Regions from separate parts of the Homo sapiens genome. Here regions 1, 3, 4, 5, 6 and 7 are each linked to region 2. Evidence: fine-mapped expression QTL. A gene starts in region 2. Each other region holds a variant in brackets. All regions are shown on one strand. Distances are between the middles of the regions.

Region 1 (4,000 bases), 120 kb after region 2:
GCAGGCACATTCTAGTGAACGTCCATTCCCCACTCAGTAAACGAGGTCGGGGCCGAGCCGGGGAGCCGACGTGGTGCCTGTGTAGTGATTTTCACGCGTGAATTGCCACAGCTCCCAGCACAGATTTCCAGGGAGTGGCTGTTCACACGTGTCTCACTGCCGCAGCTGCCCTGCGCCCGCCCTCAGCCCCTCCCCACGCGCCCCTCCCTGGGCGTGCCCTGGTGCTACACGCACCTGTGGGCAGCCTCGGGAGTGGGTCCCAGTGCCGTGTCCCGTTGCAGGAGAACCTACGGCAGTATGTGGACCGCGTCTTCCACGCCATCACTGAGTCTGGGGTGAGCTGCCCGACCGTCATGTGTGACATCTTCTTCTCCCTCCGGGAGGCGGCGGCCAAGCGCTTCCAGGGTGAGTGCCCTGAACACCCTCATGTTGCTGAGAAACTGCCATAGCGCTGTGCAGGGTGACTCCCACCCAGGCAGAACCCCCCGCAGCCCTGGCTAGACTAGAACTGCGGGGTCGTGAACCCCAGTTCCGATGCTGGATTTTTCCGGGGTTTGTGCCCGGGCCAGTGTTCCCTAGTTCACAACCGCAGTGGTCTCTGGGGGACCCCAGCCCTGGAGTTCACCTCCACAGTAGTCTCCAGGGGACCCCAGCCCTGGAGATCACCACCGCAGTGGTCTCTAGAGGGGCCCAGCCCTGGAGTTCACGACCACAGTGGTCTCTGGGGGGGCCGGGAAGGGTGGCCAGGCTTTGTCGGGGTGGAATGTGAATTTTCCTGATGTGGACCCCTGGGTTTTCCCAGTGGTTTCTTTTTGTGGCCGACCCTGGCAGGGCCCAGAGTGGTGTTGGGGGCTCTGCCTGCCCGTGTCTTCGAAGAGACAGGACCCCTGGGGGAGCTGCCCTTTCTTCAAACCCCCAAGCCGGAGATCCCCTAGGGACCTGGGCATCCAGCACCCAAACCCCACTTCTCAACCTTGCCGACCCTCAGGGAGGAGCTGGGTGCCTGCACCCACCCATCACCTGCGATACTCAAGACCCCGCCAGGACTCAGGCTATGTATGGGGCGCTGAGAGGCTCAGCGAGGGCCTTGCTGCCGGCTCCTCTCTTCCTTGCGTGTCCTGTGGCCTCGGGACAGCTGCAGACACCCCGGGGTGGCCATGGTCCTGCAGAGCCGTCCACGCTTCTGTGTCCCCAGGAGACAAACGCTGTCCCCACCCCTGATTCTCAGGACATCAGACAGTCAGACAGCGCCGGCCGAGGGGCCCAGGGTTCTGGGGGAGGCAGTTCCCAAGCACATCCCAGCCCCAGACCCACTTTGAACAAGGTGGAAGTGAAGAGATAAAACACATCCTCTCACCCAGATGAGCACAGACCACTGTGGAATGAGACACCAAAGGGGCTGCGCTGTGTGGTGGTGATGAGAGATGGAGAGAAACAGGGAGAGATGGAGAGAGAGGCAGAGACAGAAGGAGAGAGACAGAGAGAGACAAGGAGAGAGAGAGAGAGACAGGGAGAGACGGAGAGAGAGGCAGAGACAGACGGAGAGAGAGGCAGAGACAGACGGAGAGAGAGATAGAGACGGAGAGAGAGA[G/TAGAG]ATGGAGAGAGACAGAGACAGACGGAGAGAGATGGAGAGAGAGATCGAGACGGAGAGAGAGAGAGAGAGACAGAGAGATAGAGACAGGGAGAGAGAGACGGAGAGAGAGAGACAGAGAAAGAGAGAAAAAGAGAGAGACAGAGATAGGGAGAGAGACAGGGAGAGAGACAGAGAGATGGAGAGAGAGACAGACGGAGAGAAAGAGACGGGGAGAGAGAGATGGAGTTAGGGAGAGAGACAGAGAGGGAGAGAGACAGAGAGATGGAGAGAGAGAGAGAGAGCCAGAGACAGACGGACGGAGAGAGAGAGGGGGAGAGAGAGAGAGAGACAGAGATAGGGAGAGAGACAGGGAGAGGGACAAAGAGGGAGAGAGACAAAGAGATGGAGAGAGAGAGAGACAGATGGAGGGGGGGAGAGAGCCAGAGACGGAGAGAGAGAGAGAGAGACAGAGATAGGGAGAGAGACAGAGGGACAAAGAGAGGGAGAGAGACAGAGAGATGAGAGAGAGACAAATAGAGGGAGAGAGAGAGAGACAGAGATACGGAGAGAGACAGGGAGAGAGACAAAGGGGGAGAGACAGAGAGATGGAGAGAGAGAGGGAAACAGAGAGAGGGAGAGAGGGAAACAGAGAGAGGGAGAGAGACAGACACAGGTGGAGATAGAGCCAGGACTGTGGCTGGACTTCCCTGCGGACCCTCAGGGGGCCGGGGCATGGTGTCCCCACGAGGCCATTGTGCCCGAGGAAAACGGTCACCCTGCTTCTCTCTCCCGCAGATGACCCGGACGTCAGGTACACTGCAGTGAGCAGCTTCATCTTCCTGAGGTTCTTTGCGCCCGCCATTCTCTCCCCCAACCTCTTCCAGCTCACGCCGCACCACACGGTGAGTGACCGGCTGAGGGACCGAGGCTTTCTGAGCTGTCCTGCGACGCCGGCCTGGGTTGGGGCATCTGCGTGGCTGTAGGGGGCCGACCGTGTGGAGTGTGGAATGCGTGGGGAGTGTGTGAGGAATCAGGAGTGAGTGGGGAGTGTGTGTGGAATGAGGAGTGAGTGGGGAGTGTGTGTGGAATGGGGAGTGTTTGTGGAATGAGGAGTGTGTGGAGTGCGTGGACTGCGTGGGGAGTGTGGAAGGCATGTGGAATGGGGAGTGTGTGTGGAATGAGGAGTGAGTGGGGAGTGTGTGTGGAATGGGGAGTGTTTGTGGAATGAGGAGTGTGTGGAGTGCGTGGACTGCGTGGGGAGTGTGGAAGGCATGTGGAATGGGGAGTGTGTGTGGAATGAGTGAGTGGGGAGTGTGTGTGGAATGGGGAGTGTGTGTGGAATGAGGAGTGTGTGGAGTGCGTGGACAGTGTGTGGGGAGTGTGGAAGGCGTGTGGAATGGGGAGTGTGTGTGGAATGAGGAGTGAGTGGGGAGTGTGCGTGGAATGAGGAGTGTGTGTGGAATGGGGAGTGTGTGTGGAATGCATGGGGAGTGTGCATGGAATGAGGAGTGTGTGTGGAATGCGTGGGGAGTGTGTGTAATGAGTGAGTGGGGAGTGCGTTTGGAATGGGGAGTGTGTGTGGACGGTGCATGGGGAGTGGGGAGTGTGGAAGACGTGTGGAATGGGGAGTGTGTGTGGAGTGTGTGGACGGTGCACGGGGAGTGTGGAAGGTGTGTGGAATGGGGAGTGCGTGTGGAGTGTGTGTGGAGTGTGTGGACGGTGCGTGGGGAGTGCTGGTGGATGCGCTGGGTCCTGGAACGTCCTCGTTGCAGGTGGTTCACCGACCTATTTAAGCTGTGTACGTTCTGGGGGAGTCGAGACAGTGTCACAAAAGCAGTGGACGGTTTGTCCAGGGTTTTAGCTGCTGGTCACCGCCCTGCTCTCCTCCCCTGCCCATCACATATGGAGTATTGATGATCGGCGTATCATCCGTGTATTGAGTCAACAGATTCCTATTTAGCACTGATTTTCTCCAGGCCCCAATGTGGTTGCTGGGGCCGCAGCTCTCAGGGTACAGGGATCTGGGGTGACCGTGTTGCACGTGCGGGTGGCAGAGCTGGAAGGAGATGGCCAGGGCGAGAGGACGTGAGGGATTGCCCATTCCCCAGCACTTCTTTTTTTTTGAGACAGAGTCTTGCTCTGTCACCAGGCTGGCGTGCAGTGGTACCATCTCAGCTCACTGCAACCTCTGCCTCCTGGGTTCAAGCAATTCTCGTGCGTCAGCCTCCCTAGTAGCTTGGATTACAGACGTGCGCCACCACGCCCAGCTAATTTTGTATTTTTATTAGAGATGGGGTTTTACCATGTTGGCCAGGCTGGTCTCGAACTCCTGACCTCAAGTGATCTACCTGCCTCGGCCTCCCGAAGTGCTGGGATTACAGGCGTGAGCCACCAAGCCCGGCCCCCAGCACTTCTGAGTTGAACCTTCAA
Region 2 (4,000 bases):
GAACTGCTTTTTAGGAAGTGAAGGTAAGCAGTGGAAAAAAATAGGCCTCTATCTTCATGAAGCTCCTGTTCCTCTCCATGCAGTGTGTGTGTGTTTGTGTATGTTCACGTAGGTGTGTGTATGTATGTTTAGTGTGTATGTCTGTGCATGTGTATGGGTAGTATATGTGTGTGCTGTCTGTGTTGTGTGTATATGAACATATGTGTTCATGTGTATATGTGGTGTGTGTATGTAGGGTGTGTGTATATGTGTGTATATGTATGTGTGTACACGTGTGTAGTATGTGTGTGGTGTCTGTGTGTGGTGTCTATGTGTATGTATATGTATATGTAGTGTATGTGTGGTATATGTATGTGTGTATATATGTGTAGGGTGTGTGTGTGGCACTGGGTGCAATGAAGTTTTGCAACATAGAGGAGGGAGTGTAGTCTCAGTTCATATACACACCTACAGTTCATACACACACACAAACATACTCCTCAGAGAGGAGGTCAGGGAGGAGGAGACCTCGAGACAGAAGAAAGGGAGGTAAGGGTGGTACCTGCCCATGCTGGGGTCTGCAGGGGGACTGGGGGGGGACCTGCCCATGCCGGGGTCTGCAGGGGGACTTGGGGGGGGACCTGCCCATGCTGGGGTCTGCAAGGGGACTTGGGGGGGGACCTGCCCATGCCGGGGTCTGCAGGGGGACTTGGGGGGGGGACCTGCTCATGCCGGGGTCTGCAGGGGGACTGGGGGGGGACCTGCTCATGCCGGGGTCTGCAGGGGGACTGGGGGGGGACCTGCCCATGCCGGGGTCTGCAGGGGAACTGGGGGGGGACCTGCCCATGCCGGGGTCTGCAGGGGGACTTGGGGGGGGGACCTGCCCATGCCGGGGTCTGCAGGGGGACTGGGGGGGGACCTGCCCATGCCGGGGTCTGCAGGGGACTGGGGGGGGACCTGCCCATGCTGGGGTCTGCAGGGGGACTTGGGGGGGGGACCTGCTCATGCTGGGGTCTGCAGGGGGACTGGGGGGGGACCTGCTCATGCTGGGGTCTGCAGGGGGACTGGGTGGGGGAGACCTGCCGGTGCCGGGGTCTGCAGGGGGACTGGGGGGGGACCTGCCCGTGCCGGGGTCTGCAGGGGGACTGGGGGGGGACCTGCCCATGCCGGGGTCTGCAGGGGGACTGGGGGGGACCTGCCCATGCCGGGGTCTGCAGGGGGACTGGGGGGGGAGACCTGCCCATGCCGGGGTCTGCAGGGGGACTGGGGGGGGGAGACCTGCCCATGCCGGGGTCTGCAGGGGGACTGGGGGGGGGGAGACCTGCCCATGCTGGGGTCTGCAGGGGGACTTGGGGGGGGGACCTGCCCATGCCGGAGGTCTGGGGTGGGGGGCTGTGTGTGCGTGTATGTGTCCCCGCCCCCCTCGTGCGTCTGCAGCAGGTGCCTTCGGATCGCATCTCAGGAGCTGGGGCTGGGCGCGGGATTCCTCCCCTGCCAGATCGTTGTACGTGAACTTCTCTTGGCAAAGTTCGTCCGCGAGTCAATCGCTCAGCCTCGCTCAGCGGGCCCGGGCCGCGCCGGCGACCTTCCTTCGTCTCTTCCGCCAGGCAGCCCGCTGGGGTCCCTTCCGCTCAGCGGCCAATCCGCGGGGCGGGGGCGGGGGCCGAGGCCTCGGGGGAAGCCGATCCCTGCGCCCCCCGGGTCTCCGCCACCCGCCAGCGCCGTCCCTGCCAACCCCGCCCCTGCAGGGCCCGGGCCAGTTGGGAGCAGGGGCCGGGCCGCGGGCGGAGCCTCCCGGTCCCCGCCCTCGCCCTCGGCCAACTGGCGGTCTTGCAGGCGGGCGGACCCTCGGCCGCGCTCGGGGCTCCGGCGCCGCCGCTCCTCCTGCTCGGCCTGAGCTGCCCGGGCTCGGCGCGCGCTTGGGGCGAGGCTCGGCGGGCGCGGACGCGCAGCATGGCGGTGGAGGACGAGGGGCTCCGGGTCTTCCAGAGCGTGAAGATCAAGATCGGTGAGTGTCCGCCGGCAGCCACGCGTCCGACCCCCCGGCCCGACCCTGTCCTCTCCCGCGCCCGCCTCCCCTCCGCAGATCCTTGCTGGGGACCCCGGCGGAGACGCCCTCCAGGCGCGGCGCGCTCCCCGGAGAACGGCTGGTCCGGCTCCGCGGCCCCTCCCCACCTCCCCGCCTCCCCGGGCCTCGGGCTGGGTCGAGTCGGCTCCGGGGTAACGCGGCTCCCTGCGCCTCCTCTGCGCCCGGAGCGGCCCCGGTCCCTGGTAGCGGCGGAGGAGGTGGGGTCCCTGCGCCGAGGGACGTCTGTCCGCGTGTGCGCCCGAGCGTGTGCCCCGCGTGTTTGCAGGAGTGCGCGCGCCTGAGGCTGTCTGGGCGCCTGCACTTCAGGTGTCAAATCCACTGACGTCGGGGTCTCGGCATCTCCCTTTCTCCGCTGCGCCCAGAAACTTCCTTTCCGGGGAATGTGGAGGCTCCTTCACGCTTCTCCCCAGGGGCGTGAGGCCCCGGCGCGCTGCTGCTGCTGTGCGCGCGCGTCTGTGCCTGCGTGCGCGCGTGTTTGTGTGTGCTTGTGTTTGTGTGTCCATGTGTGGGCGGTGTGTGTGCGCGTGCGTTTGTGGGTGCATGTGTGGGTGCGTATTTGTGTGTGGATGCATGTGTGCGCGCGTGTGTATTTGTGTGTGGGCGCGTGTGTGTGCGCGCGTTTGTGTGTGTGCATGTGTGCGTGTGTGCTGGTGGGGCGTTCTGGCTGAGGGCTCCCGCGGGGCGGGGAGACCCCGGACCCATCGGCACCACGTCCCTTTCCACTGAGAAGTGGCGGGCGAGCTGGTGGCGACCAGGGCCTGCGAGGCTGCGGTTTTTCTCTGGGCTTCAGCAGCTTCTGAAGTGGGCTCCCGGAGGCGTTTCCGGAGAGGAGGCTGTGTCTGGACTTCTGGTTTATCTGGAGGGATCTGCTTTTCCCTGGTTGTTTTATCTTGGGAGAGTGATGTGGAAGTCCTCCCCCTCCCCCAGAGCAAGACCGTTTCCTGGAGTGACTGTTCCATATTCATGCCATGAGTGTGCTGGACCACAGCGCGGTTCAGGCTGGAGAGGCTTCCAGGGCCTGCAGTGTCGCGGTCCCCACGGTCCTTCTCCCCCACTGAGCCGCACTTCGCAGCCGGCCTCTTCCCGTGTGAAGAGGCCTCCGGGAACGGGCTGAGTGTCAGTTGTTGATGACATTTGATGCTGCCGGAGGCATTCCAGCTCCCCTAAACCAGCGGGCTGTTTCCTGTCGGCTTTATTTTGGTTTGCGGATCATCGCTGAGACACTGTCTTGATATTTGGCCCAGAAGCGCTGCAGCTAGGATGTGGCAGCACTTCCGCTTTGAGTAGTCCAGAGAGGAGGGATTTCTTTTGTTAATGTGGTTTAAATCCGCTGTCACTTTCATACAAGAAAGCCAGAGCTGGCGCTCCCTGAAGTGCCTGAGGTCGCCTTGCCTGGGTGGGGAAAGGTCGCGGCCCGTGGGGGTCAGTTTGCTGCTCTTTCCTTCAGCCAAGGCTGCTTGGCTCAGCCAGCGAGTCTGAGGAGTGTGAGAAGCACTGGGCTTCCTCAGTCACGGGGGCAGGAGGGCTGGAGGTGGGTGCCCCTGTGGGGCAGTGCCAGGTCTCCAGGCAGCAGGCAGAGGCGGCCTGGGGCTTTGCGGCTCGGGGGTGGGGGGCCCACAGCCGGCACAGCATGCTCGCTGTGTACTCCAGGAAGGGCTACACTTCAGGCCACGGCAGGACTTTACAGAAGGCATGGGAAGTAGAACAGGAGGGCGAGGGAAGACCAGAGTCTCAGACCAGATACTCAGACCCTGAGTCTCCCAGAAGGCAGCTTCACCGGCCTGCGGGCACTCGGCCCCACTTCCGACAGGCGTGGGGGTCAGGCACCCTGGAGGATCCCTCGGAGAGAAGGAGGTTTGGAGATGCCACAACTTGGTCAGGCTCTGTGCTCCACTTTAAACAAGCCAGTGAAACCCTGGCTCAGCTGAGGCT
Region 3 (4,000 bases), 90 kb before region 2:
TGTTCTCAGGACCAGACAGCAGCCTTTCTAGTTTTGTGATAGATCCTTTGACGTTCATTGCATTAGGGCCCATCAGGGAGGGCTGGCAGAGGCCAGGACTCCTACAGCACAACCCTTGTGGGGTGGAACAAGGTGGGGACACACAGGCAGGCACATTCGGAAAATGCTGCCAGAGTCAACCCTAAACTGCCACCTCGAAAAGGAGGTGCAAATTCGAGGCTTGCAAACCAAGGACACAAATCGCTATGGAGAGGCCATTTTTTCCATCAAGTTTAGCACAGACGTGGACTGTTAATGGAGGTCCTGTGCCCAGTTGCGCTTCACGACACAGGGGGGCGGGGCTGCCTGGAGAGGTCATGGCTGCAGTGGGCAGAGGCCCAGCTCCTCCCGGCCCGATGCCGGCATCTCAGGCTCCAGCACCACCTGCTGCACAGGAGAGGCTTCGGGAGGTCCACTCGGGGGATCAGCAGGAGACCCAGAATCCACATCCAGGCCTGTCTGACCCCACAGTCTGTGATTTTAAACACTGTCAATGGAAGGTCCACCCTGAGGAGCGGTGAGGAACCTGGGATTGCCGAATTCTGCATGGAGGAGCCGGAGGCAAGCTCTGCTATTCATGTCAAGTGTATTTTAAAGGGGCTTGTGCATAAAGGAATGAAATAAGGAATGAAATTAGCTGCTGCTTCTTTTTTTTTTTTTTTTTTTTTTTGGTAGAGACGGGGTCTCATCATGTGGCCCAGGCTGGTCTTGAATTCCTGGGCTCATGCGACCCTCCCACCTTGGCCTCCCAAACTGCTGGGAATGTAGGTGTGCGATACCATGCCCAGCCTGAAATTATCTTCTTATTTTCATTCAAACAAAACAAAACAAAAATTTAAATCTATAATATAGGTTAAAAATAGCAAAGAGTACTTTGGGAGGCCAAGGCAGACAGATCACCTGAGGTCAGGCATTCAAGACCAGCCTGGTCAACATGGTGAAACCCCGTCTCTACTAAAAATACAAAAATTAGCTGGGAGTGGTGGTGCATGTGCCTGTAATCCCATCCATCTCAAAAAATAAATAAATAAAATAAAAATAATAAATAAATAAATAGCAAAGAGTAGTTAGGGACCGTGACATTTCTGAGGGGCTAGCTATCAGCTCCATGAGGCTGAGACTACATATGCAGAGTTCTGTTGAATGAATGAAGGTGTGTGTGAGTCTTTTAACTCATTTTTAAAAGGCATTGCCCATGGGCTGATGTTCATTGTTGTGGAACAGCTTAGGCGGGATCTTACCTGGGGCTGATAGAGAACTAAGCAGATCCCAAGGGCTCTCAGACATACCCTTGATGTCTCCAACCGAGACTCTCTGGGTCCTTTTTTCTTTTCTTTTCTTTTCTTTTTTCTTTCTTTTTTTTTTTTTTTTTGAGATGGAGTCTTGCTCTGTCGCCCCGGTTGGAGTGCAGTGGCGCGTTCTCGGCTCACTGCAACCTCCATCTCCCAGGTTCAAGCGATTCTCCTGCCTCAGCCTTCTGAGTAGCTGGGATTACAGGTGCCCGCCACCATGCCTGGCTAACTTCTTTGTATTTTTAGTAGAGATGGGGTTTCACCATGTTGGTCAGGCTGGTCTCGAACTCCTCACCTTGTGATCCGCCCACCTCGGCCCCTCAAAGTGCTGGGATTACAGGCGTGAGCCATCGTGCCTGGCCCTCTGGGTCTTTTTTATATCTTAGGTTATGTATTCTGGAGTCAAGCTGTAGTTTCATCACGTTCAAAAATTTTAATCTGATTTATTTAGATATTTGTTAAAGGAACAATCACAGAGCTTTTAAGGTAAGTTAAAAATCCACCTAGGAATTATAGACAAATCCACCACAGCTCAAAATACAGTAACAGAATAAGTCTTCATAGCTAGAGAAAACAATCTAATTCAAACCCTCACCTCCTAACATGACTCTGCATAGTTTGTTTCCAGTTATCAGAGTCCAAGAAGCACAGAAAATAGTTTTGCTGCGTCATCTGCTCGGGCACATTGTTGAAACACCGTTTGAGGAGCTGCCTCCTGGGCACTTCACAGCTGCTCCGGCTGTGATAACAGTGAAGAGAGGAAGACAGCGGGGCTGCCCTGGCCCCGGCCCTGGGCAAGGCTGATTCCCCACACTGCCCTGAGACCGCTGGCTGTGTTAGCCTGGGGGAGCTCATGGCTGGCCTTGTGGGTCTTCCTTGTGACTCCCTCATCA[C/T]ACTTGTCTTCTTTCTGGATTTGTGTTCTGAATCCTTACCCTTCCTCACTTCTCTTTTAGGGTCCAGGCTTGGCTGTGCGCTTGCTAATCCAGTTTCACTTCCTGCTGGATTTAAAATACATATTTGAAACTAACGCTTTCTTAGGCAAGAACAAGAAACTATCAACTTACTTGGGAAATGGAATATTTCAACTCATTGACAAGTCTTTACTTAGAATTAAACATACAATTTTTAAAATAACAGCTTTATTTAGATACAATTCTATACCCCTTTATAGTGTATATTTTAGTGTGTTTTGGTATATTCAGAGTTGTGCAACTATTGTCACAATATAATTTCAGAACATCTTCATCACCTCCCCCTCCAAAAATCAAACTCCTTTGGGATCACTCCCCAATTTCCCTTCCCCCAGCCCCGACAACCACTGATTACTTTTTGTCTCTTTGAATGTGCCTATTCTGGACATTTCATATAAAAGGGATCAGACAACATGCGGCATTTAGTATCCAGCTTTTTCACGGAACATAATAATGTCTTTAAGGTTTATCCATTCTGTAACTAGTATCATTCCTTTTTATGGTAGAATAATATTCCATTCTATGGCTATACCACGTTTTATCTGTTCATCAGTTGATAGACATTTGGGTTGTTTACACCTCTTGGTCATTGTGAACTGTGCTGCTATGAACATCAGTGTATGGGTTTTTGCATGAATGTATGTTTTCAAGTCTCTCGAATATAGACCTAGGAGTGGAGTTGCTGGGTGATTTGGTAACTGTTTAACTTTTTGATGAACTACCAAACTGTTTTCCAAAGTGGCTGCACCACTCTTTTTTTTTCTTTTCATTTTAAGTTTGTGTACCTTTTATTTCATTTCCTTTTTTTTTTATTACACTTTAAGTTCTAGGGTACATGTGCACAATGTGCAGGTTTGTTACATATGTATACATACCACTGTTTACCCCTACCAGCAGCCTATGAGGGTTCCAGTTTCTCCACATCCTTATTGTAATCTACCTTTTGATTGCAGACAAGTTAGTGGCTGCAAGTGACATCTCACTGTGGTCTTCATTTGCATTTACTAATAACATTGAACATCTTCTCATGCACTTATTGGCCATTTGTATATCCTGTTGGGAGAAATCTCTATTCAAATAATCAGATAACCTTTTGTCAGTTTTGTTGTTAAACATCTTTCTGAAATGCAGCAAAGTACTTTTCCCGGAATCAGTAAACTGAGCCATGTTGGCTTGTTGCTGGATGGTAAAGGGCCTTCAGGAGGAAAAAGGAAAGAAACTCAAATTTATCTTTTGCCAAGTAAGTGTGAGTCACTTTTTTTGTTTTTTTGTTTTTTTGAGACGTAGTCTCGCTCTGTCGCCTAAGCTGGAGTGCAGTGGCGCGATGTCGGCTCACTGCAACCTCCGCCTCCCTGGTTCAAGCGATCCTCCTGCCTCAGCCTCCTGAGTAGCTGGGACTACAGGCGCACGCCACTACACTCAGCTAATTTTTGTATTTTTAGTAGAGACGGGGTTTCACCATGTTGGCCAGGATGGTCTCGATCTCCTGAAATCGTGATCCGCCTGTCTCGGCCTCCCGAAGTGCTGGGATTACAGGCATGAGCCACCATGCCCAGCCAAGTGTGAGTCACTTTCACAGTCATTTTTGCAAATGTTATTCACTTAACCCTGACGTGAGGTCCAGGAGGTGGTTCCTGTCCCATCTTTAGAAGCGAGAATGGGGCTCCCCGAGGCTGAGCTTTTGTCCGAGATGATGGT
Region 4 (4,000 bases), 74 kb after region 2:
TCCGGGCGTGCGCGGCTCCAGCTGCGTCCTGCCCGCCTCTCGCCTCACTGGAAGCAGAGCGGAACGGGGCGTGTCCGGTCCTGGCCCTTCGCGTCCCCGCAGGCCCGTCACCTCCTGCAGGAGCCCCTCTGGCTTCCCGGCAGTCTTGGCTCTGCCAGAACTGAATTCCTGTCGTCCCCATGAGGACAACCAGGATTTGCTCGGCACCGTGGCCTCTCGGGCTGACCGCTGCACCTTGCTTGCAGAAAGCCCCACCTGTGGAGGCTTGGGTGACCTTCCCTTCCTGGTCCACTGTGCCAGGTCTGGGCAGCTCCTGGCTGCTGACCTGAGACAGGTGATTCCTCCCTGCATGCCCACTGCCCCATCCGTGCATCCGTCCATCCAGTGTCTTGCACGGGCCTGCATATTCCCAGCTGCTGTGGTGAAATGTCTGCTCTGCACCACGTGACCTCGGCTGCACCCTGACCTCTGACCTCGGCTCCCAGCATGCTCCGGTCCTGCCGTGCCCTGCCCAGGCCACGTCAGCCTTCTCCTTGCTCCTACGTCTTTACCACACACAAGCCCTGCTGCCTCGAGGCCTTCGCACCTGGTGTCCCTCTGCCTAGACCCCTCCTGCGCTCTCCGCGCCGTCCATGGCCTCATTCATGCGTTCCCTTGTCCTCCTGCGGGTCTCCTCACCGTCCACAGCGCTGTTCAAGCGCTCACTCGTCCGTAAGCCTCCCTGTCCCCCGAGCGAGGCCACAGTGCTGCCCCCGCCAGCCTTGCCCGCGTTGGACATTCGTGGTTCTGTGTGCTCTTTGGCTGGCTCCATGGGGCCAGGACTTTGCTTCATTGGCTGCTATTCCCACAGTCTAGAACGGGGATGGGCAGCTGAAACAGTCATGGAGAGAGAGAGCGCTGTGGTTTCTGGGTCCAGTGAGCCACGCCTGGCGGGGGCCAAAGACATCGAAAGTGCTCCCCGTTGTTTGGTCCTGGTGTGTGGGAGGCCCTGCCATGTGCTTGTCTCACTGTGCAGGGCAGAGGAAGAAACCTCCAAGCCAGGCAGTGGTGTGTCCTGGGGAGGCCGCTTTGGGGGCAGAGCCACTGCCCTTCCCCAGCCGAGCGCCCTCTGTGCCCGCAGGCTGCACTGTGGAGAGGGCGGTGTCCTGAGGCTGAGAGATGAGGGAACTGGCCTCTGGCAAGGCAGCGTTGAAACGTGGACGTCCCCATCTTCAAAGTCGTGCTTCCCCCGGCAAGGCCCGTGTGGGCACCTGTGCCTCCTGGGTACCTGTGCCTCCTGGGTACCTGCGCCTCCTCGCATTGGCTTCAGCGACGTCTGTCACAGATTCTTACATTTAGACGTGCCATATAGTCTTCCTGGTGGAGACCAACGTCCCCTTGGCCTTGTGAAGCTTACCAGGGCCTGAATTAGGTTGGGGGGAGCAGCTGCACCTGGGGACTGTGCTGTGAAGATGCAGGAGGGCCTGACGGCGGCTCCTCCAGGCGGGACTGTGCTCTGAAGATGCAGGAGATGCAGGTGTTTGGTTTTTTGAGACAGGATCTCGCCCTGTCACTCAGGCAGGAGTGCAGTGCTGTGATCACAGCTCACTGCAGCCTGGAACCCCGGGCTCAAGCAATCCTCCGCTTCGCTGCAGACGTGCGCCACCAAACCCATCTAATTTTTAAATTTTCTGTTGAGTTGGGGTCTTGCTATGTTGCCCAGGTTGATCTCTAACTCCTGGGCTCAAGTGGCGCTTCTGGCATGGCCTCCCAAAGTGCTGGGATTACAGGCGTGAGCCACTGCATCTGGCCTGGATGCAGGTATTTAAAAGAGCTTAGGGAAGTTCTTCGAAAAAGGCTCTGGCCTTCAACTCCCACTTCTACTCCTGATTTTGGTTCTCATTGGGATATAAGTTTCAGAGCACTCCTGGGCTCAGGAGAAGAGCAGCTCCCCTGCGAGGGGCAGGGTCACCTGTGTCCACAGCAGCAGG[A/G]CTTGGTCCCTGGGGACTGCGGGTCGGCATAGTCCAGGGTGCCCATGACCAGTCCTCCGAGGAGCAGGGCCTGGGAAGGGCATTGTCGGGCAGGCGAGGACGGGCATGGTTGCTGGTCTGGGCATCAGTGGCATTGCTCTGAGAGGGAAGGAGATGCTGTCCCAGCAAGGGTGGCCTCAGGTCTGGACCCTCAAGTGGACACCGTGTTTTGGCTCTAGGACTGGCATGGCCCAACAGGATTTTCTGCAAAACAGGAAATGGTCTCTGTGTTTTCCGTCCGGTCTGGTGACCACAAGTCACGGGCTGGTGAGCACCCGAGGAGCTGAATTCTGTGGTGGGAATCCAGGTTCGGGAGAGGTCGTCAGGCAGGTGTGCAGACAACGTGAGTGGTGAGCCTCACGCCCGAGGAATCCGCTCTTCCTGCTGGACGCGTGGATGGTGGTGACGGCCTCGCCGCAGCAGCAGCACCTGGAGCTGGCCCCTGCCGGGTGGGTGGTCTCCATGGGGCTCATGGCATCTCGGGGGTCTTGGGGGGATGTCACTCTGGTGCTCCGTTTGCAGGTACAAACCTGCCATTCTAGGAGCTGACTGATGATCCCGGTCCTCGCCCCTGTCCTCACACCCCTGAGTGGTCAGGCAGGGGCTTCACTCGGCTGGTTCTGGCCTCCGTGCTAAAATGAATGAATAGGACAGGACAGTGAGGAAAACGCACACCTGGGGAAGTGACCTGGGAACTCACCACCCCCACCCACCTCCGGGACTCCGACCTCCCAGGGCCTCAGCCAGGCCCTGCCCTCTTCAGCACATTGGAAACACCTGCATCTACCCAGTGTGCGCTAGGATGGCAGCTCTCCAGCCTCCATCCTGCAGGCCGAGCCCGCACCCCAGGGAAGCCATTGTTCTGGGTCCCCTCGTGCTGAGCGCCCTGGCCAGAGGTGCCCCTTCCAGGTCTGGGTGTGGTTGGCGGAGGTTTTATGGGTTTTAGCTGTGGGTTCATTCTCAGAGGTTAACTGCCCCCAGAAGGTGGGGAACCGCCTCCACTCTCCTCCTTGAGCTGGGGGTTTTACATTCTTCCAGGAGTTTCTTCAGGGCTCCCTGGCTATGGCATCGTGGCCTTGGGTGTCAGGCTGGCTCTGTGCACAGTCATTGTGGGGAGAGGTTTCCTTCCTGTGGGGGCCTCCACTGTCCCTGGAATCGCCCTTCTTATTCCCTAAATAAATCATCGGTCTAAGAAGCTGAACGAACCCTCTATTCTGGCACAGAGACTGGCTCCAGCTTTCCTTGAAATCCTGCAGAGCCTTCATTAAAATGAGTGCAAGGCCTGTAGCACGGCCGCCTCTCCGGACCCCACTGCCCTGCAATGCCTTCTGCTCGTCCAGCTCGTGGGAATGAAGCTTGGTCACAGTGGTTGGTGGCTCAGAGCTCCGTTGATAAGGCTGGCCGGCCGCCTGCAGATGTCCTGCCTGGTTTCCTGAAAGACTTGAGGTGACCCGCAGGAAACAAAGTTAGTAATAACTTTATTACTTTAAGTTTAAAAAGTTATATGAAATAAGAAGAAAAACATTAAAATAGGCAATTGGAACCACTAGAATAAACGACATCAGACATGCAAAACACTCACCCATCGCCTGTGCTGGAGCCTGTTCTGGCTCCAGGGTTCTCAGCTGCAAATGTGTAAAATGGAACTGTGAGTGTGACGTTCCCCTTCTTCAGGAGGGGGGACCCGTGGTTCCCAAGGACAACAGCTCCTCTTAGCAGGGGGGGCAGCCTGACAGAGGGCCCCAAAGCGCTGCCTCCCCTGCTGCGATTCAGGAGCAAGGTTCTAAAGCCATTGCTGGAGAAATTCCTGGGTGGAGGCTGGAGGAGGTCTTGCTCCCCAGGGGTAGTGCAGCAGGGCCATGCTGTGTTGCTATAAACCGCTTTTACATTTAGAAAGGGGCACGTCCAGTCTGTGGTGATAATTTTATGGAGTTCGTATGTTTTCTTGTAGCTTCCTCTTTCTGCTATTTTTATCTCTTTTTATTGAATGG
Region 5 (4,000 bases), 42 kb before region 2:
GTGGAGAATTATTTTTTATACTGGGCTAGGTTTGGATGTTTGGTATTATATAGTTTCTACTTATATTCTACAGAAAGTAAATACCAACGCCTATTTTTGACTTTGATTATCCAGATTATATTTGGGTGTTCAGCTGCTGCCTTAATCAATATTTTGGCCCAATATTAAGTTTAACGTTTTGTTTCTTAGAAATGCCTTGAAATGTCACCAAGTGATATCCTGAAATGTGGAGGCCGTTACATAGAACAGCTTACTATGTTGCATGCAATATGTAAAGTATTTGCTATATGACACATATTAACTCAGTCTTTAATATTCATAATTCTTTTCCTGTGTCCTTAACTCTAAATCCAAGCTTTGATTTTTCTGTTCTGCCCTCCCACAAAAGGCCGTATCTTCAAAACCAAGCAGCAACTTCGTTCTCATTCTGCAGAAGAGTGGTTTACAAACAAATCTCCAACCACTTCAAATTCACTCAACCTTCAACCTTTGGAGGGCAAATGTGCTTGCAAACATTGATTTCCAGAAAAGGTAACTGTGTCTCCAGTACCTTCTGTGTAGTGCAAATCACTCAAGAGCTGAGCTAAAGAAGCTGGGAGTCACCACCACCAGGAACTGCTGCGTGACCTGCTTAAGTCGACCCTTCCACTGAACAAAGCCAGAATCCTGGAGGCCATCTTGCATATACTGAAGAGCCCACCCAGGAGTCAGGAATTTTGAGGCTGTGGTCAAAAAAATCTGTCAGACCCCCGAGCCAGCACTCAGAGGGCTTCTCCTGAAGGCACTCAGGATGCCAGCGGTGGGGTCTTTGTGGGGGATGGGGCAGGTGGGCAGTCTTCATAGGAGCTGAAGTCTTCACCCTCAGGAAAACGTGGATCAGAAATAACCCATCCTTCAACAACTGCCAGGTTACAGCAGAGCAGGGGACAAGACAAGGAAGAGCCCTGCGGCCCAGGTTCACACAGTTGTGAAATTAGCTTAATGTCACAGTGCCTAAAAAACCCTCAAGTCGCGAAATTATCTTAACGTGGCCCTGGACTGATGACATCTCAAGATGCTGCCAACTTTCCAGTGTCTCAGTGCACCAAACATCTTGCAAAGTGAATCAATCCTGCAGAGAAGACACGACTAGCACCACAGGAACCTTGGAGCAGATGGCTCAGACACAGATGATAAGACTCACTCTGCTTCAAGGCACAAAAGACAAAATCGGAAATAGCTGCAGAGTACAGGAAACCATAAAAGTTTTCAATACAGAAAGAATGTTTACAACATTTGCAAAATTTGACCGTATGCTGGGCCATGAAAAAGTGTCCACATGTTTCAAAGGGCTGAAATCATACAGATAATGTTCACAGTGGCAGAGAGCCAGGAATTCATAACAAAAGATAACTGGGAAATCCCATGTTTGGAAACTAAGCAATGCAATTCCAAGGTCAGGAACAAGACAGGGATGTCCCTGTGGCCTTCCCTGATACAAGAGGAGCTCTTTGGATTAAGTGGATTAATGTGTTAGGGGTCTTGAACTGTCCACCTAAAAGGAAATTCAAAGGAACAGGCTCTCCAGAACAAATAAATTTAAGTGAGAATAGCACGGGATTGCATGCTATGATAGATCACAGGCACACTGGAGGGGCCAGGGCAAAGGGGAGATCTTTAAAGACAGAGAGAACTCCACAGAAGCTGCTTTGTAACAAAAATCACTGGTTAGCAGAGCTTGTCCCAGAGCTGGCGTTAGCTCCTTGTGCAGGCCGCTCACCTGTAATACCGACCTGTCTTGAGGAATTTTCGTGCAATGCATCCTAATATGGGCGAACCTGAGGCCCGTGCAGGGGTGCCTTGAGATGAGGCTTGTCCAGGTGTTTGTGTATGAGGGCGCCCCGTCATGGCCTCCCCACCCCATTTTGTTAGAGTTTGATATGAGTGAACCTATTTTGGTACTAGCAACTTTCACAGAACAGAAGGAGTTCAATTTGCTGGTAATTAGTCATGGTGGTGTTAACTGCAGCCTTACTCATGCAATCATTTCTCAAGAACCCTATTCCTGGGACGATTCACTTAGGTCTCAATCCCACTCTGGAAATAGTCTTAAAAAATTGATGCAGAAGCATG[T/C]GAAAGCTGAGTGTATAAACACATGAATTCCAGTGTCACTGGTTTACTGTTGCACAGAGCTGGAGCTGGGCCCACTCCACACAGAAAGTGATGGGGTGTGGTGCAGCCACTCTTGTGATGACTGGAAAGACAAACCCAGCAAGATATGCACAAAACTGCTCCTTTTACCAGTAAGTGGGGAGCTGAGCCCAGAAGATACCTTGGAAAAACTTCCTCTTACTAGCATGTGAGAAGCTGAGACTGGAAGACACCTTGGTAAAGTTAATTTGTTATAGGTGTGTTAAAGCAACTAAATATGGCCCAAGAAGGACTCTGTACTTCCAGATTTATGAGTCCTTGTGGATAAACTGCAGCCTAACTTAATAGGTAGACAAGATTGAAAACCTAATTTAGGAGTCTGAGCCTGTAACAACAGCTGAGTCTTGGCCAATTCCAGCAGCTGTACTTCAACCACTCACCCTGCTGAGTGTCCAAACTGTGTTCAAATAAGGCAAACCCTGAGCTGTAACCAATCCAGCTGTCTGTACCTCACTTCCAATTTCTGTACGTCAGTTCCCTTTCTTTGTCTATAAATATTCTTCCACTACATGGCCGTGCTAGAGTCTTTTCGGATCTGCTGTGATTCTGGGGGCTGTCCAATTTGTGAATCCTTCATTGCTTAATTAAACTCCTTTAGATTTAATTTGGCTCAAGTTTTTCTTTTAATAGATGGTGTCAGAAGTGGGATCTGATATTGTAGGGGTTATAAAATTTGGCTTTTGGAAATTCACAGGGATTTTTGTGTTCCACCCCTTTGTTTCATTTTCCCTGTGCGCTTAGGTAGAAAAAAATCATTGGTGTATTAATCTGTTTTTATGCTGCTGATAAAGACATACCTGAAACTGGGAACAAAAAGAGGTTTAATTGGACTTACAGTTCCACATGGCTGGGAGGCCTCAGAATCATGGCAGGAGGTGAAAGGCACTTCTTACATGGCAGCAGCAGGAGAAAAATGAGGAGGAAGCAAAATCAGAAATTGCTGATAAGCCCATCAGATCCTGCAAGACTTATTCACTATCATGAAAATAGCATGGGAAAGACCAGCCCCCATGATTCAGTTACCTCCCAATGGGTCCCTCCCACAACATGTGGGAATTCTGGGAGATATAATTCAAGTTGAGATTTGGGTGGGGACACAGTAAACCATATCAATTGGCTAAGTTAATCAAGGGAATCTGAGAGTAAAGCCAATATTTTAGGTAAAAATAGGATCCTTTTTTTTTTAAAATTATACTTTAAGTTGTAGGGTACATGTGCAGAACATGCATGTTTATTACATAGGTATACACATGCCATGGTGGTTTGCTGCACCCATCAACCTGTCATCTACATTACGTATTTCTCTTAATACTAATGCTATCAAAAATGGGATCCTTAGTTTCTAGAAAACTGAGTTCCTTCTGGCTTATACATTAGGCCTGGGAGGCCATGAAGTCTTAAAGAAATGGCAAAATCTTACTAAAGGTAACTTACAGTGGAATGTTCCAAATGAACAATGCACAAAAGTGCATTTAAAAATGAGGGTTCACAAATTAGTCTCATCTAGGGATGCATATTAATATGCAGAAGCTTTTAGAAAGATTTAGAGATGATGGGGCCAATCTGGGGGCAAGTTTGAGCCTTGCCAGTTTGATATTGGGGGCAAAGCAGAGTGGCTAACATCTATGTTTTGTCACATGTATTTTGCTCTGGCCAGAGCAGAAAAAGATAATTTTCCTTTGTGCTGTGGCTTGGCTGCATTGGCTTTGGTGCAGCAAGCCGGGTCAGTGGGGCCCTCGGGGAAAGGGAACCCAGAAGCCTAGCATGCCGACAAAATGCTAAGGATGCCTCGTGAGTCAGAGAAATCCTG
Region 6 (4,000 bases), 31 kb after region 2:
TTCCCAGACACCCCGAAGGGCCAGGGCAGCCTTCACTGTGCTGAGGCTGGCTGTGGTCTCTTGGGCATCTCTCCCGACTTGGGCCAGGTACACAGTGGGGTAGGGCGAATGTGCACACATTTCCGGTGGACTTGGGGGAGACCCTCTAGGTCTCCTTGAAGCACAGAGCCAGTGCACCTGGCTTCTCTGCCAGACACAGCAACAGTCACGGCCATTGGCCACAGCCACCTCCACGACAGCCACAGCTGCATTTCTCCCCCTGGGGCCGGCTGCACCGGAGCTGCCCACGTGAGTGTCCTTGGCTGACAGCATCGCAGCCTCACTCTTAGGGGTGAGCGAGCAGCAGGGGTGGTTTGGTTCAGGGACCCCAACTCTGGGAGCCCACCTGCCTGGGGCTGGACTCAGGCCCCGTGTTGCCTTGTGGGTGGGTGGGTGGCACTGCCGGCTGCGCCCACGGCGATTATACAGACGACTTGGTCTTCCCGTCGTCCCCAGCCCACAGGACTCCAGCCTCCACAGGCTTTGCCGCCCTCCCCAGGGGTCAGGAAGCCCCGGAGACCATAGGACAGAGGTGGTTTAGTCGGGAGCGTCGCCCTGGGGGTAGGTGAGGCAGGACAGGCAGTGACGCCGCAGCCTTGGCTGTGACACCACCTGGTGGGCTGCAGTCCCACTTCTGCCCCTGCCACCGGCCATGTGGCCTGCTCACCGCCCTGGGCCTCAGCATCTTCTCCTGCAAAATGGGGTCGTGATGGTTCCTGAGAGTTTGTGTGTAGAGGGCAGTGCTGGCACAAAACGTCAGAGACAGGGCCCCTCGCACCTCCTGCCCGTCCCACGCAGCTGCACCAGGCTCTGGGGGAGGGTGGGACCTGAGCTTGGTTCTTCTTGTGGGAAGCGCTCTCACTCCCTCTCTGTCCCTCTCCCTCTCACCGTCTCTCTGTCTCCGTCTCTCTTCCTCCTTCACTCTCGCTCTCCCCCAGCACAGGTCCGACAGTCTGGTTCGGTGCCCGCTGCTCTGCCGCCCTCTGGGCTCCTGGCTGGGGCTCTGCTCTGCTTCTCAGCCCGCTGCCTGCCCACTGCCCGCCTACCGCCCACCTGCTGCCCGCCTACCACCCGCCCGCTGTGGATCCTGTGCTTCACAGCCCCCGTCTCTCTGTTTTCTGGCACTGGAAGAAGACACTCTTTTTAAGACAGTCCTGTGACTCACAACCAAAGGGAGGTCAAGTGCATTTGCACAGTTGTATGCAGTCTGGGGGTCTCCGCTCAAGGCTGGGGACTGTGTGTCGGGCAGGTCCTTCGGTGCTGGGCACGGGGTCTTTCACCCTGTAGACGTCGCTTGTGGGGTCCTTGGAAACTGAGACCCCCGCTCCCCACTTTCTGATGAGAGGGCCCCGTCTGTCTTTATGCCATGGTCCAGGGTGAGTTGATTTCCTTGTGCCGTGGTCCAGGGTGAATGATGTGCCACATTTCCTGGGAATGACATTTTCCGTATGTTTTCCAGACGGCATTGGCATGGCCCACTTTGGAATCCAGCAGGTGACTTCAGGGCCCACAAGCCTCTCACCCCCAGGACCCCGGGTGCAGCCACAGCAGTTAAGGGAGACACTTAGACACTGCCGTCTTCCCTGGAAGCTTCCAGTTCCAACTCCGGGGCTGTTCGGGTTTCGTGTATTTCACTGCTGGCTTCACTGTTTTACCAACAGGGCTGACTTGGAAACGAGGACAGCCAAGCGTGTTTGCCAAGGAAAGCCCGGATCTCCGGCGTGCAGTGCCGGCTGGGGCCCCTGGCATGGGTCAGGGCCGGGATCAGGCCCCTCCAGGTTCGGATTGTCCATGGGGTGGTGCTTAGACACTGTCTCAGGGCGGGGCCCAGCACGGGCAGTGGCTGGCAACTCTCCAGCCCTGAGGGGTTCCTCCTGCCTCTGTCCTTCCTGTAGAGGTGCAGTCCCCTGGTGGGCCGTGGGGGTGCAGGGGGTGCTGGGGCCACTGCCTACCCGTCCTGGTTGGGGGTAGACCTCGCTGGGCAGAACCCCTTCC[T/C]AGCACATGGCCCAGGGGTCTGCTTGCCAGTTGGATTTTCCCTTCCCTTCCCTCTGAAATTCCCTGGTTCTTCAATTTTGGTCCCTTTTTCTGGGCCTCTCTGACTTGTCTGTAACAGAAGTGCAGAGAGGTTTGGTGGCTGCCGTTGGCCGGGACACAGGCCTGCAGAACCCGCCTTGCTGGTGACTGCACAGGCCATCCATGTGGGTGTGGGGAGCCCCTGTCCCTACACCCCCGGCTGCTCCTCAGGCCCCCAGGTGTGTCCAGCCTGACACAGGCTGACGCTCACCCCCTCACCTGCGGTTTCAGTCACATGTGGTCAGCCGTGGTCCAAAAATGTTAAATGGAAAATTCTAAAAATAAGCAATTTCTGAGTTTTTAAAATTGTGTGGCATTCTCAGTAGCAGTTGAGGCCCCGCAGTCCACCTGTCAGTCACTAGCAGCCTCTCCAGGTGGCGAGAACACAGACGCATGGGGCCCGGGCTCCACGGCTTCCGGTGTCCCTGGGGCCTTGGAGTGTTTCTCGAAGGGTACACAGTTCCCAAACGGCTGGACATTTAAACAGGTCCGGGCAGCAGAGAGACCGAACCAGCCTGGGATTTTCCGAGTTGAGGCTGTTTGCCCAGGTGTCCTGGTGTGGGATGTGCTTTCTGGCATTTTCCATGGAAGCCACGTCAGCCGCCTTCTTCCCAACTGCTAGGGCCGGCTGCTGCACTTGTCTTGGAGGTGGTTTCCAGAACAAACTTCCAGCCAGCCGTGGGGCGCAGCGCAGGGGGACTGGGCCCAGACGGGGGTCCCTGGCTGCTCTGAGCATCACGTCCTCCGCCTGACAGAGCCCTGCCTCCAGGACCTTCCTCCCCTTTCCAGGCCACGCTGACCAAGTGCTTTGCAGGCGGGCGGCTCCTGGGTGTTGCGCACAAGAGTCTAAAATCTCCTTTCAGAATGCTTGGAGGGTGCTGTGCACCCCATGGCCGAAGCTCTGAGGGTGCCCCAGGACGCAGTGGGGAGGGTCGGGGCCGAGGGGCAGCCGCTGGTGCTGGCACAGAGGCATCCACATCGGCGCGCCCTCAGCACCGCGGGCCGGGGCGGGGCAGAGTCAGAGCTGCGTCTCCTGCGAGCTCCTCCATTTACCATTCGGCGTCTTCCTATTGCGCAGAGTTTGGAAAGCCTTGCTGTGTTCAGGTGTGGCAGTGTGGTCTCTCCACCCTGGCCTGCCGCTCTTCCAGAGCAGACGCTTTGCAAACCTGCAGTTTTTCTTGCTTGATTAGGACAATAGTTTTTAAACAGCATTAGAGTTAAGGAGATAAAACTGTGCGTGTGAGCATCGAGTGGAGCATGTGGGGGCTGTGGGGGGCTGCAGGGGGGCTGTGGGGGGGCTGTGGGGTGGGGGCTACGGGGGGCTGCTGTGGGGGGCTGTGGGGGGGCTGCTGTGGGGGGCTGTGGGGGGGCTGCTGTGGGGGGGCTGTGGGGGGGCTGCTGTGGGGGGCTGTGGGGGGGCTGCTGTGGGGGGCTGTGGGGGGGCTGCTGTGGGGGGCTGTGGGGGGGCTGCTGTGGGGGGCTGTGGGGGGGCTGCTGTGGGGGCTGTGGGGGGGCTGCTGTGGGGGCTGTGGGGGGGCTGCTGTGGGGGGCTGTGGGGGGGCTGGGGGGGCTGTGGGGGGGCTGTGGGGGGGCTGCTGTGGGGGCTGCATCTCAGGCGCTGACCCTGCATTTGGGCCAGTTTTAAACAGAGCCGTACTTAGGTCCCAGGCAGGGAGGGAAAGGAGGGAGACGCGCTGTGTGAACACAGGTCTGAGAAGCGCTGACCAGAGGCCTGAGTCATTCCCGGACACCCCGGGGAATCCAAATGTGCCTGGAAAGGGAGAGGCAGTCGCCCTCCCTCCCCGACCCAGCACCCACCCACAAGACACGCTATTTCTGTACCGTCCCTGTGTGATGGAGGCCTGGGAGTGGCTGCAGCCCCGCGTGT
Region 7 (4,000 bases), 190 kb after region 2:
CACTCGTCATCACCCACCAACAGAGCGTAAGCCAAAAATAAAACACTAAGGTTCCCAACCATCTGAGTGGACCTCGTCCTCACCAGAGCCCTCTTAAAATGTAACCCGAGAGGTGGTTTCCAGCCATGACGGGAACGGGGGTCAGACATGCCTCGTTCTACCTTTCCAGCATTAACGTCCACACAGACCTGAAGTCTGATGAGAAACATTTCACAGCCCTCTGAAGCTGCTACCTGAAGGCCTCCTCCACAAATAAGAACCTGGGTTTCCAGGATCCTGGATCTGAACTCAGGCATTCCTTTCTATTATTGATCCCAGGTCTTTAGATAAATGTAACCAATTGTCCACCGGAAAGTTTTTAAATCTTCCTATAACCTGAGAGTTCTGCTCCCCTGACTGCTTTGCATTGCCCTGCCTTTCTGAGCCGAACCAGCATATTTCTTAAATGTATTGCCTGAAGTCTCATTCTCCCTAAAATGCATAAAAGCAAGCTACTCTCTGACCACCCTGGACACATGTCCTCAGGCCCTCCTGAGGGCTGGGTCATGGCCCACGGTCACTTGTCTTGGGCTCAGAATGAATCTCCCCACATTTTACAGAGTTTGACTCTTTGTTGACAGGAGCCAACGCTGCTGTCTGACCCCGGCCCGGAGCTCTCCCCGAGCTCTCCTGTGGGAGGCAGCCATTTGCAGAAATGGAGCCGAGCCTCAGTGGGACTGTCAGGGCCCAGGGACCCGAGGGGCCAGCGCTCCCTGAGGGCAGGGCTCAGCATCCACCAAGCGGGCCTTAGAGAGCCATGGCCGCCGGCCATCTGCAGTGCTCGTGAGGGGCACTGACTGCTCCCACCTGGCTCCCACCTCACCTCCGGCGGGCACTGGGGCGCTGTGCCTTTCTCAGAGGCATCAGGGAGTCCAAGGAGACGCCAGAGGACCTGTGTCCCATCCTCAAGGTAAAGGGCACAGTAACTGGCTGACCGATCACCAACAGGCCGCCTCCGCTGCCTGGAGCCCGCTGGCCCAGGGGTTCCTACCGCGCCCTGCCGTCTCCCTCATCCTCCCTCACTGCATCCAGACACCCAGTCCCCTGGTTGCCCGTGCCCGCGTCAGCTCTGGCCATCCTTGTCCTGGGGGCTGGGCATGGATTTTGCTGTCTCGTGTTCTCAGGACTGTATGAAGTCCAGCCCATTTGGCAAGCATCCTGTGGAGGTAAGGCTGTCTCTCAGTGGCTCCTGAGCTGATGTGTCCAACTACAGGTCCAGGTGGTGTCTGCCGAGTCTCCTGGTCAAATCGCCGTCCTTCCTCTGTAGGGGATAATCGTCCTGGAGACACTGGGAGACCAAATCCTGATTCTCCTGGAACTTCTCTGATTTTGGCATCCATGGGGGTCTTGTCAGCAGCAATCAGTTCCGTGGACTTTGACTCGTGGTGATTTTCTGTTTCCCCATTTCCTCAGGCATTTATCCATCGAGGTTCTCCTGCAGGGAAGAGCAGTGGGTCCCTCCTCCCGGGCTGCGTGTTGACCCGGCCAGTGGCGACAGCAGCAGAACTCATATGCGTCTATTGTATTCTGTGGTTTGTGAAAAGT[G/A]TAGGTCAGTGACCACAGTAGTGGATTCTGTGGTTTGCAATCAGCACGGCCTCTGTGCGTTTTGTTGCTCATGCCACCATGATCGGCCTTTGGCAGCTCTTCATGTTGGCCCCTGTGACCTTCACAAGCTCTTACTTTTTAATTAATTAAATCTGGGGGTGAGCCTCCGGCTCTGGGCTCCACAGGACTTCAGCTCATTGCAAACTTCCCTGCTCTGGAGGAGCAATGAGTCAGCCGCCGGCAAGGACAGCCCATTTGGAGGTAAAGTGCTAAGGGGAGAGGAAGGCGGTGAGAGTAAAGCAGTGGCAGGAACTGCTCAGAGGACAGGTGACATGCGGAGGCCTAGGGCAGACCTCGTCCAGGGCGCTGGGCAGGTCCAGGCAGGTCCTCCAGGCCAGGGACCCTGCGCAGCTGCCTTCTGGGTGGGGAGAGTGGGGGCAGCACCCAGGGTGCCTGGCGTGCTGTGCTGAAGGCCACCTGCGAGGCTGGAACTGTGTCTCCATCTGACAGGCAGAGAAACAGCAGCAGCCCAGCCTGGGAAACGATGTCAACAGCTCCTGTTTCCAGCACGTTCCTGGGTCTCAGACGCCCAGCCTCACACACAGAGTCCCAGAGACCAGGGTATCGAATGCCCAGCCTCACACATGGAGTCCCAGAGGAGATCAGGGTCTCGAACGCTCAGCCTCACACATGGAGTCCCAGAGACCAGGATCTCGAACGCTCAGCCTCACACATGGAGTCCCAGAGACCAGGGTCTCGAACGCTCAGCCTCACACATGGAGTCCCAGAGACCAGGGTCTCGAACGCTCAGCCTCACACACGGAGTCCCAGAGGAGACCAGGATCTCGAACGCTCAGCCTCACACATGGAGTCCCAGAGACCAGGGTCTCGAACGCTCAGCCTCACACATGGAGTCCCAGAGACCAGGGTCTCGAACGCTCAGCCTCACACACGGAGTCCCAGAGGAGACCAGGATCTCGAACGCTCAGCCTCACACATGGAGTCCCAGAGACCAGGGTCTCGAACGCTCAGCCTCACACACGGAGTCCCAGAGGAGACCAGGATCTCGAACGCTCAGCCTCACACATGGAGTCCCAGAGACCAGGGTCTCGAACGCTCAGCCTCACACATGGAGTCCCAGAGACCAGGGTCTCGAACGCTCAGCCTCACACACGGAGTCCCAGAGGAGACCAGGATCTCGAACGCTCAGCCTCACACATGGAGTCCCAGAGACCAGGGTCTCGAACGCTCAGCCTCACACATGGAGTCCCAGAGACCAGGGTCTCGAACGCTCAGCCTCACACACGGAGTCCCAGAGGAGACCAGGATCTCGAACGCTCAGCCTCACACATGGAGTCCCAGAGACCAGGGTCTCGAACGCTCAGCCTCACACATGGAGTCCCAGAGACCAGGGTCTCGAACGCTCAGCCTCACACACGGAGTCCCAGAGGAGACCAGGATCTCGAACGCTCAGCCTCACACATGGAGTCCCAGAGACCAGGGTCTCGAACGCTCAGCCTCACACACGGAGTCCCAGAGGAGACCAGGATCTCGAACGCTCAGCCTCACACATGGAGTCCCAGAGACCAGGGTCTCGAACGCTCAGCCTCACACATGGAGTCCCAGAGACCAGGGTCTCGAACGCTCAGCCTCACACATGGAGTCCCAGAGACCAGGGTCTCGAATGCCCAGCCTCACACATGGAGTCCTAGAGGAGACCAGGGTCCCAGACGCCCATCCTCACGCAGAGCCCCATAGGAAACCAGCACCTGCGTCTTCTGTCTGGGTGGCACAGGGAAAGTGCTTCCCCTGGGAATACTCGGCTGGCATCCACCCCGCCAGTGTGTGCTGCAGGCTGGCTCATCTGGGGGTGGGGGGCTTGGCGGCAGCACCGCAGGGTCTAGGGGAGCCCACCTGGCTCTGGCCTCCTGCTCTTCGCTTCCGGGGAAACGGCCCAGGCCCCTGCTGCACACTCTTCCTTCCCCTCTTCAGTAGTAAGAGGAGCCAAATGCGGCTGACGGTGCATCTGAGGCCGAGGCGCAGCCCCCGCCCCTGGGGTGGACTTTGGCCGCATGGGCAGGGCCAGGCAGGCAGGTAGCCTCTTGGGGCCTCTGAGGTGGCCCGAATGCCTCCCCTGATCACGGCTGCCACCCGGGCATCCTGGTCCCCCTGCGTCAGAGCCCACACACATGACAGACAGGAGGCTCTGGCTCAGATGAGGCCAGCGGCACTTCCTTTCATCCTGCCTGGCACCCGGTTTCTTGATGACCCAGGCCAGTGTTTTTCACGCTGAATCGTGTTTGACTTAGAAGCACATGGGATGATCCCTTTGGCCTTCCCAGCACCTCCTGAGAAGTATTGTCATCAGACCTGTGAGCATGAGATGGCGCTGGGCCCAGAGAGGTCAGTGCCCTGG

Alleles and levels. Positions count from the first base shown, and alleles are read on the strand shown. Sizes are in standard deviations (SD) of each study's normalised expression. Not every link is listed here.
In carriers of allele TAGAG in region 1, the expression in subcutaneous fat of the gene that starts at base 1,799 in region 2 tends to be higher than with G alone (large effect, 0.93 SD a copy in TwinsUK).

What was found. PIP is the estimated chance that this variant, and not a neighbour inherited with it, causes the effect.
Region 1: its variant is the best candidate, but not a certain one, in a credible set for the expression of RASA3 in subcutaneous fat (TwinsUK, PIP 0.88).
Region 3: its variant is the best candidate, but not a certain one, in a credible set for the expression of RASA3 in blood mononuclear cells (TOPMed, PIP 0.67).
Region 4: its variant is the best candidate, but not a certain one, in a credible set for the expression of RASA3 in subcutaneous fat (TwinsUK, PIP 0.88).
Region 5: its variant is the best candidate, but not a certain one, in a credible set for the expression of RASA3 in T cells (TOPMed, PIP 0.85).
Region 6: its variant is the best candidate, but not a certain one, in a credible set for the expression of RASA3 in monocytes (Quach 2016, PIP 0.57).
Region 7: its variant is the best candidate, but not a certain one, in a credible set for the expression of RASA3 in T cells (TOPMed, PIP 0.76).

The regions. Positions count from the first base shown.
Region 1 is chr13:114,011,614-114,015,613 of GRCh38, reverse strand. It overlaps RASA3 (RAS p21 protein activator 3), which reads left to right. Exons shown (of 24, transcript NM_007368.4): 14 at 282-405; 15 at 2,366-2,472. Among named protein-coding and RNA genes, the nearest start is that of C13orf46, 40 kb to the right of the region's middle. The variant G/TAGAG (reference allele first, on the strand shown) is at 1,592.
Region 2 is chr13:114,130,422-114,134,421 of GRCh38, reverse strand. RASA3 (RAS p21 protein activator 3) reads left to right here and starts at 1,799. Exons shown (of 24, transcript NM_007368.4): 1 at 1,799-1,987. The coding sequence starts at 1,933. It overlaps LOC107987192 (a long non-coding RNA gene), which reads left to right and starts at 3,419. Exons shown (of 2, transcript XR_001750050.2): 1 at 3,419-4,000. RefSeq lists silencers at 1,494-1,593, 1,624-2,283 and enhancers at 2,076-2,703, 2,874-3,373, 3,664-3,923, 3,962-4,000.
Region 3 is chr13:114,220,827-114,224,826 of GRCh38, reverse strand. It overlaps CFAP97D2 (CFAP97 domain containing 2), which reads right to left. Exons shown (of 4, transcript NM_001395229.1): 4 at 1,742-2,326. The coding sequence ends at 2,320. Among named protein-coding and RNA genes, the nearest start is that of CDC16, 12 kb to the left of the region's middle. The variant C/T (reference allele first, on the strand shown) is at 2,225.
Region 4 is chr13:114,056,707-114,060,706 of GRCh38, reverse strand. All of the region lies in intron 2 of RASA3 (RAS p21 protein activator 3), which reads left to right. Among named protein-coding and RNA genes, the nearest start is that of RASA3-IT1, 51 kb to the left of the region's middle. The variant A/G (reference allele first, on the strand shown) is at 1,971.
Region 5 is chr13:114,172,034-114,176,033 of GRCh38, reverse strand. No RefSeq gene overlaps it. Among named protein-coding and RNA genes, the nearest start is that of CFAP97D2, 5.2 kb to the left of the region's middle. The variant T/C (reference allele first, on the strand shown) is at 2,113.
Region 6 is chr13:114,099,328-114,103,327 of GRCh38, reverse strand. The region is part of intron 1 of RASA3 (RAS p21 protein activator 3); the gene reads left to right. Among named protein-coding and RNA genes, the nearest start is that of RASA3-IT1, 8.5 kb to the left of the region's middle. The variant T/C (reference allele first, on the strand shown) is at 2,035.
Region 7 is chr13:113,939,756-113,943,755 of GRCh38, reverse strand. It overlaps a transcript of C13orf46 not described here. Among named protein-coding and RNA genes, the nearest start is that of SWINGN, 13 kb to the right of the region's middle. The variant G/A (reference allele first, on the strand shown) is at 1,585.